Linked DNA regions of Homo sapiens: region 2 is linked to region 1. The links come from fine-mapping of genetic effects on gene expression. A gene starts in region 1. The other region holds a variant in brackets. All regions are shown on one strand. Distances are between the middles of the regions. Region 1 holds the start of VSTM2B-DT (VSTM2B divergent transcript). Region 2 overlaps VSTM2B-DT (VSTM2B divergent transcript).

Region 1 (5,360 bases):
GAGTGTGGGTTTTGAGGCAGACAGGCAGCGTGGGCCTGTTTTCGGCCACAGAGAAGTGGCCCCTCTGTGCCCCTGAGGGCTGGAGGTCCTGCCGGCTTTCCGGTACTCGGTTTTCTGGTGGCCTCTGGAACGCAGCCGTGGGAGCCCTGGGGTCCTCAAAGTGGCAGAGGGCGGGGAGAGCCTGATGGGACCAAGGGGGCTTCCTTCACTACCCAGCACCCATCAGAGGGCCGCAGCCAGCGAGCACGAGCAAGCGACCAGGCTGAGGTGTGGCTCTTTAGGGGCTGGGCGTGAATGGAGTTCTGGGAGGTGGTGGGAACAGCGATGCTGTCAAAATAATTGACAGGTTTGGGGGTAACCACTGCTGACTTTGAAGATGCTTTGGGATGCGAAGGTGGAAGATGGGCTGCGCCACAGGGCGGCGCCCTGCGCGAGTGAAGCCCGCTGCTTCCCTCCCTGGGTTAGCCTTCGCCGCCCCGGGCGCGAGCCGGGCGCGCGCCGGTACCGCGTGGGCGGCGGGTTACCTTGCTCCGGGCGCCCGGCACGCTGAGCGCCAGCTCGTGCAGCAGCTCCCGGGGTGGCTCCTTGAGGTACCACCACTGAATCTCCAGCGAATACGAGGTGGCTCCGCTGGCCCGGAACGCGCAGGGCATTTCGATGTCGTCTCCCTCCCGTACTGTCACATCTTTGGGGACTTCTGTGAATGCAGCTGGGGGTGGGGAGAGAGAGAGAGGCGTGACCAGCTGTAGGTCGGGGGCCTGGGGCAACCTAAAGCGAGGCAGTCGGTCTCTGGCTGGCTGGCCTTGTGCCCCCCACCCCGCAGCTGCTCCCTGGCGCACGGCCGGAGGGGCTAGCAAAGTTCGGGGAAGCGGCTGCAGGGCCGAGGCAGGGACCGGCCATCGGCTGCCTACTGCTTCCCTCCGGATGGGGCGGGGCGGCAGGGGCGACTCGTGCTTCTCCCCCGCCCCTGGCCGCACCGCCAGAGCCTGGCTGGGGCGCGCCTACTCCCGCTCCCCGCAGGCATCCTTTCCGCAGCCGGGGCCCCGGCGGGACTGGGAACGACTCGGGCGCGGCGCTGCTGCTGCGGCGACCCTTCGCCGCTCGCCTCTCCCTACCCCTCCGGGCCCAGGCTGCACAGCGGGATTGCTGGAGACCGCGAAGCTTCCCGGTTCGTTCTCTTTCTTCTTCTTCTCGGTGGCGGCCCCAGCAAAGACCCCCCCGAGTCCACAGCGGCAGCAAAGTTCCCGCGCTCACCGTCGGCCACGAAGAGCAGCAGGGCATGCAGCAGCAGAGGCGGCAGGTATCCGAGGGCACCGAGCCGGTTCCGCTGTTCCATCTCCCGCGGGGGGCGCGGTGGCGGCGGGGGCCCGGGAGCGGAGAGGCGGCGGCCGCGTGGGCTCGGATCGGCTCCGGCTCGGGCTAGGACGCCTCCGAGCCTGCCATGGCCCCGCGCGGCGCCCCCTCCCCTGGCCGCCGGCGGCCGCCAATCAGCCCCGCTCCCTCGCCGGCTTGCCCGGTGCGGCTCCGGCGGGGGGCGCTGCGCGGGGTGTGCAGGAGACGCGGTCCCACCGGGAGGCTGCTGGCGATCGGTCAGTGCCTCTCTCTGTCCGGTCGTCCACAGGACGGTGGGGATCCGCGGTTCAGTCTCTGCCCGGCGGGCCGGGCAGGGGCTGGGCCGCGCCGGGACCCATCCCTGGCCGAGGGAGTGCGTGCCACGGAGCCGCGAGCTTCTGCCTCCCTGTCTCCTTCTGGTTCTGCTCCCGATTGCCACCTCCTTCGGCTCCCGCAGCCGCCCCCGCCGGTTCCTCCGCGGCTCTTTCCGCAGGGCGAGTGGGCGCTCAGCCGCGGCGCGCAGACCTGGCGTCCGACCCAGCGCAGCGCGGGGAGAGCGGGTCCGGCGTGGCGGACCCGGAGCCGGAGAGAGGCGGGGAGAGGGGGAGGGGAGGGGAAGGGAGGGGGCGGTCAGTGGCTGGGCGCCAAGCCGCCTCCACCGCTGCATCGCCCCCGCCCTCCCCTCTCCTGCCACAGCCCGCCCCGCCCCCGCCCCAGAGCGCTCCCCCTCTCTCCTCGGGGGTCGCTCGGAGGGACCACCGTCTTTCTGGTTGGAGTACAGCCCCGCCCCGCACCCGCTTGGGTTGGGAGTCCTCCCACCCAAACTCTCCCTGGCTTCTTCCCAGTCTGCACGGCTCGAGACGGCCGCTCATCCCTGCTCCCCGTGTGTCCCTCGGTCCTCTCTGCAGCTCCCAGCCCTCAACTCCTTACCCCAGTTTGGGCAACCAGCTGCCCCGCTGTTTGGCCCAGGCCTGGGCCATGACGGATGGGTGGGCGCCCGGGGCCGCGAGAAGGGCGGAACGCTGTGCCCAGCCGGAGACTACGCTGGGTGGCGGCGGCAGCGCCGGGAGTCTGCAGTGCGCGAGGGAGAAGTGAGCGCACAGCGCCCAGCGAGCAGGTGCCTGCGGCGCGGAGAGCGCACACGCTAGCCAGCCCGCAGCGGCCGTGAGTGACGGCAGGGGCGGCGGGGGTGGGGTGGGGTGGGGAGCGCCGGGCACGACTCAGGGCCCGGGAGGTTTCCGGGAGGGGGCGGGGTTCCTGCCCCTGGATCGCGGGTCCCTGTGTCTCCACGCGCTCTTCGCCGGTCGTGGCCCCTTCTTTGCCCGGTGCAAAGCGAGATGCCGAGGCGGCAGGAAGCCGGAACCCATCCCCCGCCTGCTCTGGCGTACTCGGCATCCCGGTACCTCCCCCAGCCTTCACCCGGAGTCTGCTCCCTCCCCAGCCATCTGAGGGAGCGCGGTCTGGTCCCCGAAGGCAAATGCGGGGTGGACATGTGGTTCGGACGCAGCGCGTAGTCATAGTCATAGGGGCGAGTCCTAAGGCTCGCCTTGGGTCTCTCCTATCTCCTTCCCCCGGGAGTCCCCAGCTAGTGCGTTTCGGCACCTCTGCCCCTACCCCGGCCCCTACGCCTCAGCTCTGACCTCAGGTTGGGGTGGGGCAGCCCGGTGGATTCACGTGCCTGCTTCCCCGGCTACCAGCCTCCCGGAGGCACCGCCAGAGGATTCCCTGGGAGCCAAGGAGAAGGAAACCCAGAGGGAAAACACTCTCCAGCAGCCACCCTGGTCCAGGCGGCCAGCGCAGCACAGCTCAGAGGGGAGGAGCTGCAGGCCCTCTCCAAGGCTGTCCTCGCCAGCGGGTGCCCGGGGCCAGCCCTTCTTGCCTCCAGTGCCTGCCTTTCAGTTTCCTCGTCTATGGCCCAGGAGTCACTCCCACCCCCTGGCTCACTGTGGCTCATCTATCAAGCCCTTGTTTTCTAAGGTCTCCTGCTGGGGGCAAAGGGAAGAAGGGGGTCCTATAGGACTTTCCTCCTTTCCCTCAAGTTCCTCTCTAGGGGCTCCACAGAGGCAGTTGCCAGCTCCTTCTGTCATGGCAGGAGCTTTTCCTAGGAAATCCCATGTGCCCTTAGAAACCACTTTGGACCCCCGAATGTAAGACCCTGCCAGGCCCCATTGCTGTCCTCAGCTTCTGAAGGGAGAGGGCAGACTTGCACCGCTCTATGCAGATTCAGGACCACAGCGGGGTTCCAGGAAAGCAGGCTCATTTGGGGACTGATTCCAAGCAGGGTTCTGAAGAAAGAGCTAGCCCACTGCGCAGTGGCCCACCTGGAGAGGTAGCAGTCTCCTTTCCTGATGCCAGATCCAAGCAGAGGCTAATGCTGGAGACCAGCGATGCCCGTGGGAGAATCCCTGTAGCTAGAGGGAATTATCTGGAAGTAATTTATCCCTGTACCGCCTTGTGGGGTTGGGTGTTTCTTGCCCACTGCATGAGTTGGTATTACTCTAAGAGCGACAGATACATGTTTTCACATGCTTTCCATGTACTAGACACTTTCTAGGCATCAGTTCTCAACATGACAAAGAGATCCTTCTCAGGGAAATCAGATCCCTCTTCCACTGCTGAAAAACCCCACAGTGGCTCCCATTTCACTTGGCATAAACACCAGTGGCCTTGCAGTGGCTGCCAAGGTCAAACCATCTGCCTTTCTGCTTCCTGCTCACCCTTTTCCTTCATCTTCTCATCTTTTCTGTCTTCTCCATAGCTCACACTCCCCTAGCCACACTGTTCTCCTTCCTACAATGCAGCACACTGGGCATGCTTCTACCCCAGGGCCCTTGCACCAGCCGCACCATCTGGTTGACATGCTTCTCCCACAGATACTTGCTTGGCTAACTCCGTTGTGCTCTGGTTTTTGTCAAGCAGTCACCTTCTCCATGAGGCCCACCTGGGCCACCATATTTAACACTGCAGTCTACACTGCCTCTCCTCCCACCACCCAGCACTCCCAGGCCCTCACTCTGCTTCCTTTATTTTTTCCATTTCGCCAGCCATCTTCCAACACATGGGACCACATCCTTATTTATTGAGTGTCTTGTTGCAGGTCTCTAAGACTGTGCCTGCCTTGTTCACTGATGTATCTCTAGCGCCTACAACAGGGTCGGGCACAGAGTAGGAGCTCAGTAAATACTTGTGGAATGAATGAATGAGCTCATTTTACCTCAATCACAACTCCAGGGGTAGACATGGTGATTTCACTCCATTTTATGGTTGAAGCTCAGAAGCTTACGGAACTTGCCCAAGGTCACATAGTTAGTAAGTGGCTGAGTGACGCATCAACCCAAAGCCTGTCTTACTCTGGGGTCCTGGATCTTAACCAAAACACTAAGCTCTTCCCTCCTCCAGGTGAGCCCCTGGTCCTGATGCCTCGAGTTGGTGTGGAGAGCAAGGCCCTACCCTTGACTGATGGGAGCAAGGAGCAGCCTGAGCTAGACTTGTAGTCTCTTTCCTGTCTGTTCAGCTTGGTCTATCTGTTTTCTGCCCTGCCTTGTAGACTGTGATGAGAGCAGCTGACCCACCTTCACTATGGTTTTTTTTTTTTTTTTTTTTGACACGGTCTTTTTCTGTTGTCCAGGCTGGAGTGCAGTGGCACGATCTTAGCTCACTGCACCTCAACGTCCTGAGCTCAAGCACCTCAGCCTCCAGAGTTATCATGCTGACACCAGGAGGATTAGCCCACCATGCCTTGCTAATATATATATATTTTTTTTGTAGAGATGGGGTGTTGCTATGTTGCCTAGGCTGGTCTTGAACCCCTGGGCTCAAGCGATCCTTCTGCCTCAGCCTTCCAAGTAGCTAGGACTACAGGCATGCACCATCACACTTGGCTAATTTTGTGCTTAAAATTTTTGTAGAGGTGAGTTCTTGCTCTGTTGCCCAGGTTGGTCTTGAACCCCTGGGCTCAAGCCATCTTCGTGTCTCAGCCTTCTAAGTAGCTGAGACTACAGGCATGCGCCACCATACCCAGCTAATTT
Region 2 (5,360 bases), 110 kb after region 1:
GCACATGTGGCCACAGGAGCCTAGATTTCCCTGGCTTTGAACTGGTATTCTGGGGAAGGCCAGACACAGGAAGGGCAGAGGGAGAGGCACTGGGAAGAGAGGGTCCTTGCCTTTAGGGGAAGAGAATCAAGGCCTGGGTTTGTGAGCTGTAGGGCAGGGAGAAGGGAGCCCTGAGCTGGCATGGGCTGCCTGGCACGGGCAGCCTGGTATGGGTCAGGGCCAACAGGCTGCCACCAGCAGGCTATGGTGGCCTCACCATGTGCAGCTTCTCCTGGGAACAGGGAGTGTGCTTGAAGGACTGTGGGGTTGCTTCCCAAGGAATCAAGTGGCTGGATGCGGCCCCAGATGTGATCCATGCTGTGCTTGTGTACCTGGAGATGCGAGAGAAGGCCCAGAGGCAGTTGAGAGCTGGGTTGAGCTCACACAGTGCTGCAGGCCCCAGCGGGTTCAGAAAGAAGATGTTCTGCTTCCAGCCCGGGCCCCTCCCCTCCACAGTGGCTCAGGGCTTTCCCCAGCCCCAGACCTCCCTGGGGAGCACCTGGACCTGGTGACACGACCCCAGGCTGTGCTCAGCTCTGGCTCTGCTGCTCACGAGGGTGGGACAGACATGACACAATGGGCGCCACCGGTCCTGGCTGCAGCAGATGGGGCCCTACTTGTCTCCTCCTTTACTGACTCATGTGGGCTGGGCCTTTTACAATCCAGGGCATTTAGGAAAAGCTGCTATAGGATACGAAGGTCCTGAGAAGTCCTGCAAGTAAGAGCCTGGCCAGAGCTGGGGCCCTGCTGTGTGTGGCCCTGAAGCCGGGAGCCGGGCTGCTCTGCTGAAGATGGGAGGCGGGAGCTCCCTGCCGGTCACAGAGCCCCGACTGTGTGCGCACGTGCGTATGAAAGAGGGGATAAAGGGCGATTTGTTGGATTAGAGGCTGAAATGCCAAATGTAAGCTAGAAGGGGTTTATCTACCTTTTAATGTAATTGTGAGACAAGCAATGAAATGTTTACTGTTTGCAGGCTGAGCCAGGAATAAAAACCTGATCAAATACAAATGCCTGCTTCCTCTGCACTTCTGCTCTGCCCATGAAGATGACTGGTAGGTCCATCTCAGGCTGCCTCCTGAGGCAGAGCCTGGAAACCCTACCTGCTGGTTGCCTTCCAATGAGTCAGCAAACCCGCTCTAAGCTCCTGTATGTGGGGCCCTGTGCTGGTCAGCGGCTGGAGGAGGCGAGGGGAGGGTGAGACCCTCCCCGGGGACACCACTAACACCTAATGAGACCCTGCAGGGACCGCACCCCCTGGGGAGGGTCTTGGGCTCACCAGCACTGCCTTGTCCAACTCAGTGTATTGTTAGAGTGGGGGCACCTCTCTTTGGAGGGTTTGCTTTTTGGAGGCCACAGAAATTGGGGGAGGCTGCAGTGGAAGTCCAGGGTCCAGAGGGTCAGACGAGGAGAAGGGATTCTGGAGTGGCCTCCATAGGAAGGGCCCTGGGAGGAAGCTGGTCCGTGTGCAGGTGTGTTACTCACTGCTGCAGAAGCAACTTGCTGAAGGGGTTGGCCCCTGACGCGGAGGTTTCGGAGCTCTAGAAGGCCCAGCACCTGCAGCCTGGGGGCTCACTGCCCAGCAGCCATTTTAAAAGTTCATGGACAGCTTCATTCCAAACCTCAAGAGAAACACAAGCCAAGTGCCAGCGGCACTGGCTTCTGGCCTTTGGAAGGTGGTCCTAGTGCGTTAATGGAGAACTGGGGCCTCCCACAGGTTGAAGTTGTGCTGATACCTACCCAGAAGGCAAGGATTGGGAGCTCCTCGGGTTGGGAGAGGTGTGGACAGTGCCCCACTCCCTCTGCAAGCGCCCCTAGAGGGCTGCTTCAAGAACAGTCTGGCCCCACAGAGAGGTGTGTCTGGCTAGGTGTGAGTGTACCTTAGGAGAGGTTTCTAATCCTTCATGCCTGTCTGCCAAGGGTGCCTCAGAGCACCTGGTTTGTCCCCATCAGACTCTCTGAGTGTTCAGGAAGTGGAGTGGAGGGCTTGGTTGAGTAGAGGGCTTGGTGGAGTGGGGAGCTTAATGGAGTGGAGGGCTTGGTGCAGGCCCCCATTGAATTCCCAGTCAGGGCTAACCAGGCATTCCCCGAGGCAGGAAGGCACTGGTGCCAGCAGCCAGGCTGTGGCTGGAGGAGGCTCTGCCCGCAGGGAAGCGGGGAGGCCAGCCCGGGGCTGGCTCAGCTCTCAGTCCAGCCCGCTCTCTGGAGCTCCAGATAGGCAGCCCAGGAGCTCTCAAGGGACCATGGATGAGCCTCCTGGGTGTCCCTCTTGCTCCTGTGCTGAGATTTCTCTCCCAGCTTCTCCCTGTCTGGGCAGCTTGCTCCCAGCCTGCTTGCTGGCACAGTGTCTATGACAGGTACCACGCCAGGTCCTGGGCTGCAGCATTGGACAGGACAGAGGTGGCCTTCGTCCTCTTGGGGAATACTGGTGAACACACATTTTCCTGAAGAGCACCAGTCCTGAGAGGTACTCTGGTGGATAAAAAAGTTTTACCATCAAAGAAGTGTAAGAAATGCCACTCACTGAACGTCCTGTGCAGACTAGTGTTCCTCCAGAAGAATTTCGAAGTCCCAACTCCTGGTACTTATAAATAGGACCTTTCTTGGAAATAAGGTTTTTGCAAATGTAATTAAATAAATGATCTGCAGATGAGATCATTCTGGATTGGGGGGGCACAAATCCAATTAGTGGTGTCAGAAGAGGAATGAGAGGGAGATTGACAAGTGTCAGAGAGGGCCTCCCTCCCTTAGAGCTTTCAGAGGGAGCGTGGACCTGTGGACGCCTTGATCTTGGACTTCTTGGCTCCAGAACTGCGAGAGGATGAATTGCTGTTGTAAGCCACCTGGCGTGTGGCACTTTGTTGCTGCAGCCCCAGGAAACAGATTTACCAGATGTCCTTGCTGGAGATTGACAGAGTATTAAAGATACAGAAGATGCTGACAAGTCCCGCCGTAAGGTTTAGACCAGGTTAAACCCAGGTGCTGGAGACTGATATCCCATACCCCGAGCCGAAGCAGAGCCTGAGACAATGGCTTGTGTGTAGATAGTTAATTTGGGGGATATGTTCCCGGGAAGCAGGAGTGCACCCTCAGGAAAGGTGAAGAGGGGTGGAGGGAGACCATGGTGGGTGACTGGAGACCCTCTGGGGCAGCGTGTAGAACATGCATCAGAATTGCCCACTGGAGTCGCTGTGGATTTTAACTCCCCTGCACTTCCTAGGGTGGATATGCACCAGATGGCTGAGTGGCTTCCTGGGTATC[C/T]GGGGTATCCCAGAGGCAAAAGCAGAGAAAGCCACGTGGATTGCCACAGAGGCACTGCCAGCACCTCCTTCTGGTTTCTCCTGCAACTGCTGGAGCAAAAGGATGAGCTGAGATGTGGTGCAGGGCGCTGTCCAGCATATCAGGTTGCCCATACGCCTTGAAGCCTGTAACACCTTCTTTTGGTCATCCCTGGGCATCCACAGGACATAGGTTCCAGGACCTGCTTTGGTTCCCCAAATCCAAGGATGCTCAAATCTGTGATGTAAAATGGCTTGCATTTGCACATAGCCTACACACATCTTGTCAAGTGCTTTAAATCATCTCTAGATTACTTATGATACCTAATACAATGCAAATGCTACGTTCAAAGTATTACGTGGTATTTTAAAAATTGTATTATTTTTAATTTTTGTATTGCTTTTATTGATTTTTCCCAAAGATTTTTGATATTTTTGAATCTGCAGATGCAGAATGCATGGGCGTGGAGGGCGGACAGTATACACTGAAACCCTGATGCATGCGGTGGTCCATGCAGAGTTCCGCGGGGCCCTCTGGAAACACTGGCCCAGTGAATTGTGCATTGAATTGAAAACATGGGCTTCTCCATCACTCACTCATTCATCCAATCATTAATTCAGCAAGCTTTCTTCCAGAGGGCAAGCGGCCCTCTTGCTTGTCCTAGCCCCAGAGAGGAGCACAGTCTCGGGCAGGGCTCAGTGCACAAAAATACTTATGTAAAGGACTAGATAGCACATATTTTTGGCTTTTTGGGCCATATCGTCTCTATCAGTATTGTAGTCTGATGGTAGCCATAGTCAATAAGTAAATGAATAGGCTTGGCTCTGTTTCAATTAAACTTTATTTGCCAAATGAGAGGTGAGTTGGATTTGGCCTTTGAGCCACAGTTTGCTGATCTGTGGTCAGAACCCATGGAGATATTAATACACAGCCTGGGTTTCAGAAAGCCCAGAAGATGGTGCCATTAACACTGTTCAGGGAAATCATGGAAGACTTCATGGAAAAGGGGTAGGTCTTGAAGGATTTGCAGGAGTTTGCAGGATAGAAAAGTAGGGAAAGGCATTCCAGACAGAGGTGACTGTGCCCAGGAGAGCACCCTGGATGGCTCTGAGGAATGAGACTTTACAGCAACTGGAAAAAAGAAAGTTGAATTTAGTAAGAGGAAAGTTACATTCATAATTAATGAAAATTGAGGGATGATTCTCCAGGAAGTGTTTTCAAATGAGACAAGCTATGGGCAGTTTTAGAAGCAGAGATGGGTGGGAGGAGAAGACAACTCCTTCTTTTTTCCTTTCTTTTTTTCCAGGCTGGAGTGTAGCGGCGCCATCTCGGCTCACTGCAACCTCCACCTCCCAGGTTCAAGAGACTCTCATGCCTCAGCCTCCTGAGTAGCTGAGATTATAAGCATGTGCTACCATGCCTGGTGAATTTTTCTGTTTTTTGTAGAGACTGGGTTTCACCATGTTGGCCAGGCTGGTCTCGAACTCCTGGCCTCAAGTGATTCACCTGCTTTGGCCTCCCAAAGTGCCAGGATTATAGGCATGAGCCACTGTGCCCGGCCAGACTCCTTCTTTCTTGCTGAGGCTCTCTCCCCTGGGACCATCCTCTGCAGCACTCAGGCCTCAGATGAACTTGGAGGCTGGTCCAGGGGTCTGCCCAGGACTAGGGGCAGGTGGAGCTCAGATCCCTGACTCTGCATCACAGAGCTCACCACGCTGCCTGCCACGGCCACCCCGATGGGCACATGCCCCATCACCTTGGCAGGTTATGATTACTCAGGGAAGTGTTAGATAGAACCCTGCTGGGCTGCATGGAGCTAAAACAATCCAGGATCTGTGCCTCTGTGAGGCTGTGTGGGGCTGGTGGGAGGGTTTCCCTGGAGGCATCCACTGGGGGCCGGGGAGAGTTCTGCTGGGGCTGCCTTCCTGACTAGCTCCAGGGTTTCCAGCCTGTGCTGGGGGCAGCTGCTCAGGCTTTCTTTCACCTGTGTGGGCACGTGCAGGGGTGGGGATGCCCTCTCTGCAGTGCCAGCCCCACAGCTGAGG

Evidence for each region. PIP is the estimated chance that this variant, and not a neighbour inherited with it, causes the effect.
Region 2: its variant is fine-mapped to the expression of VSTM2B-DT in cerebral cortex (GTEx, PIP 0.95).

The regions. Positions count from the first base shown.
Region 1 is chr19:29,522,560-29,527,919 of GRCh38, reverse strand. It overlaps VSTM2B-DT (VSTM2B divergent transcript), which reads left to right and starts at 2,170. Exons shown (of 10, transcript NR_040029.2): 1 at 2,170-2,496. It overlaps VSTM2B (V-set and transmembrane domain containing 2B), which reads right to left and starts at 1,926. Exons shown (of 5, transcript NM_001146339.2): 1 at 1,255-1,926; 2 at 525-709. The coding sequence starts at 1,336. The region is part of intron 1 of LOC124904683 (a long non-coding RNA gene); the gene reads left to right.
Region 2 is chr19:29,413,746-29,419,105 of GRCh38, reverse strand. The region is part of intron 2 of VSTM2B-DT (VSTM2B divergent transcript); the gene reads left to right. Among named protein-coding and RNA genes, the nearest start is that of VSTM2B-DT, 110 kb to the left of the region's middle. RefSeq lists an enhancer at 1,206-1,939 and a silencer at 3,250-3,544. The variant C/T (reference allele first, on the strand shown) is at 3,298.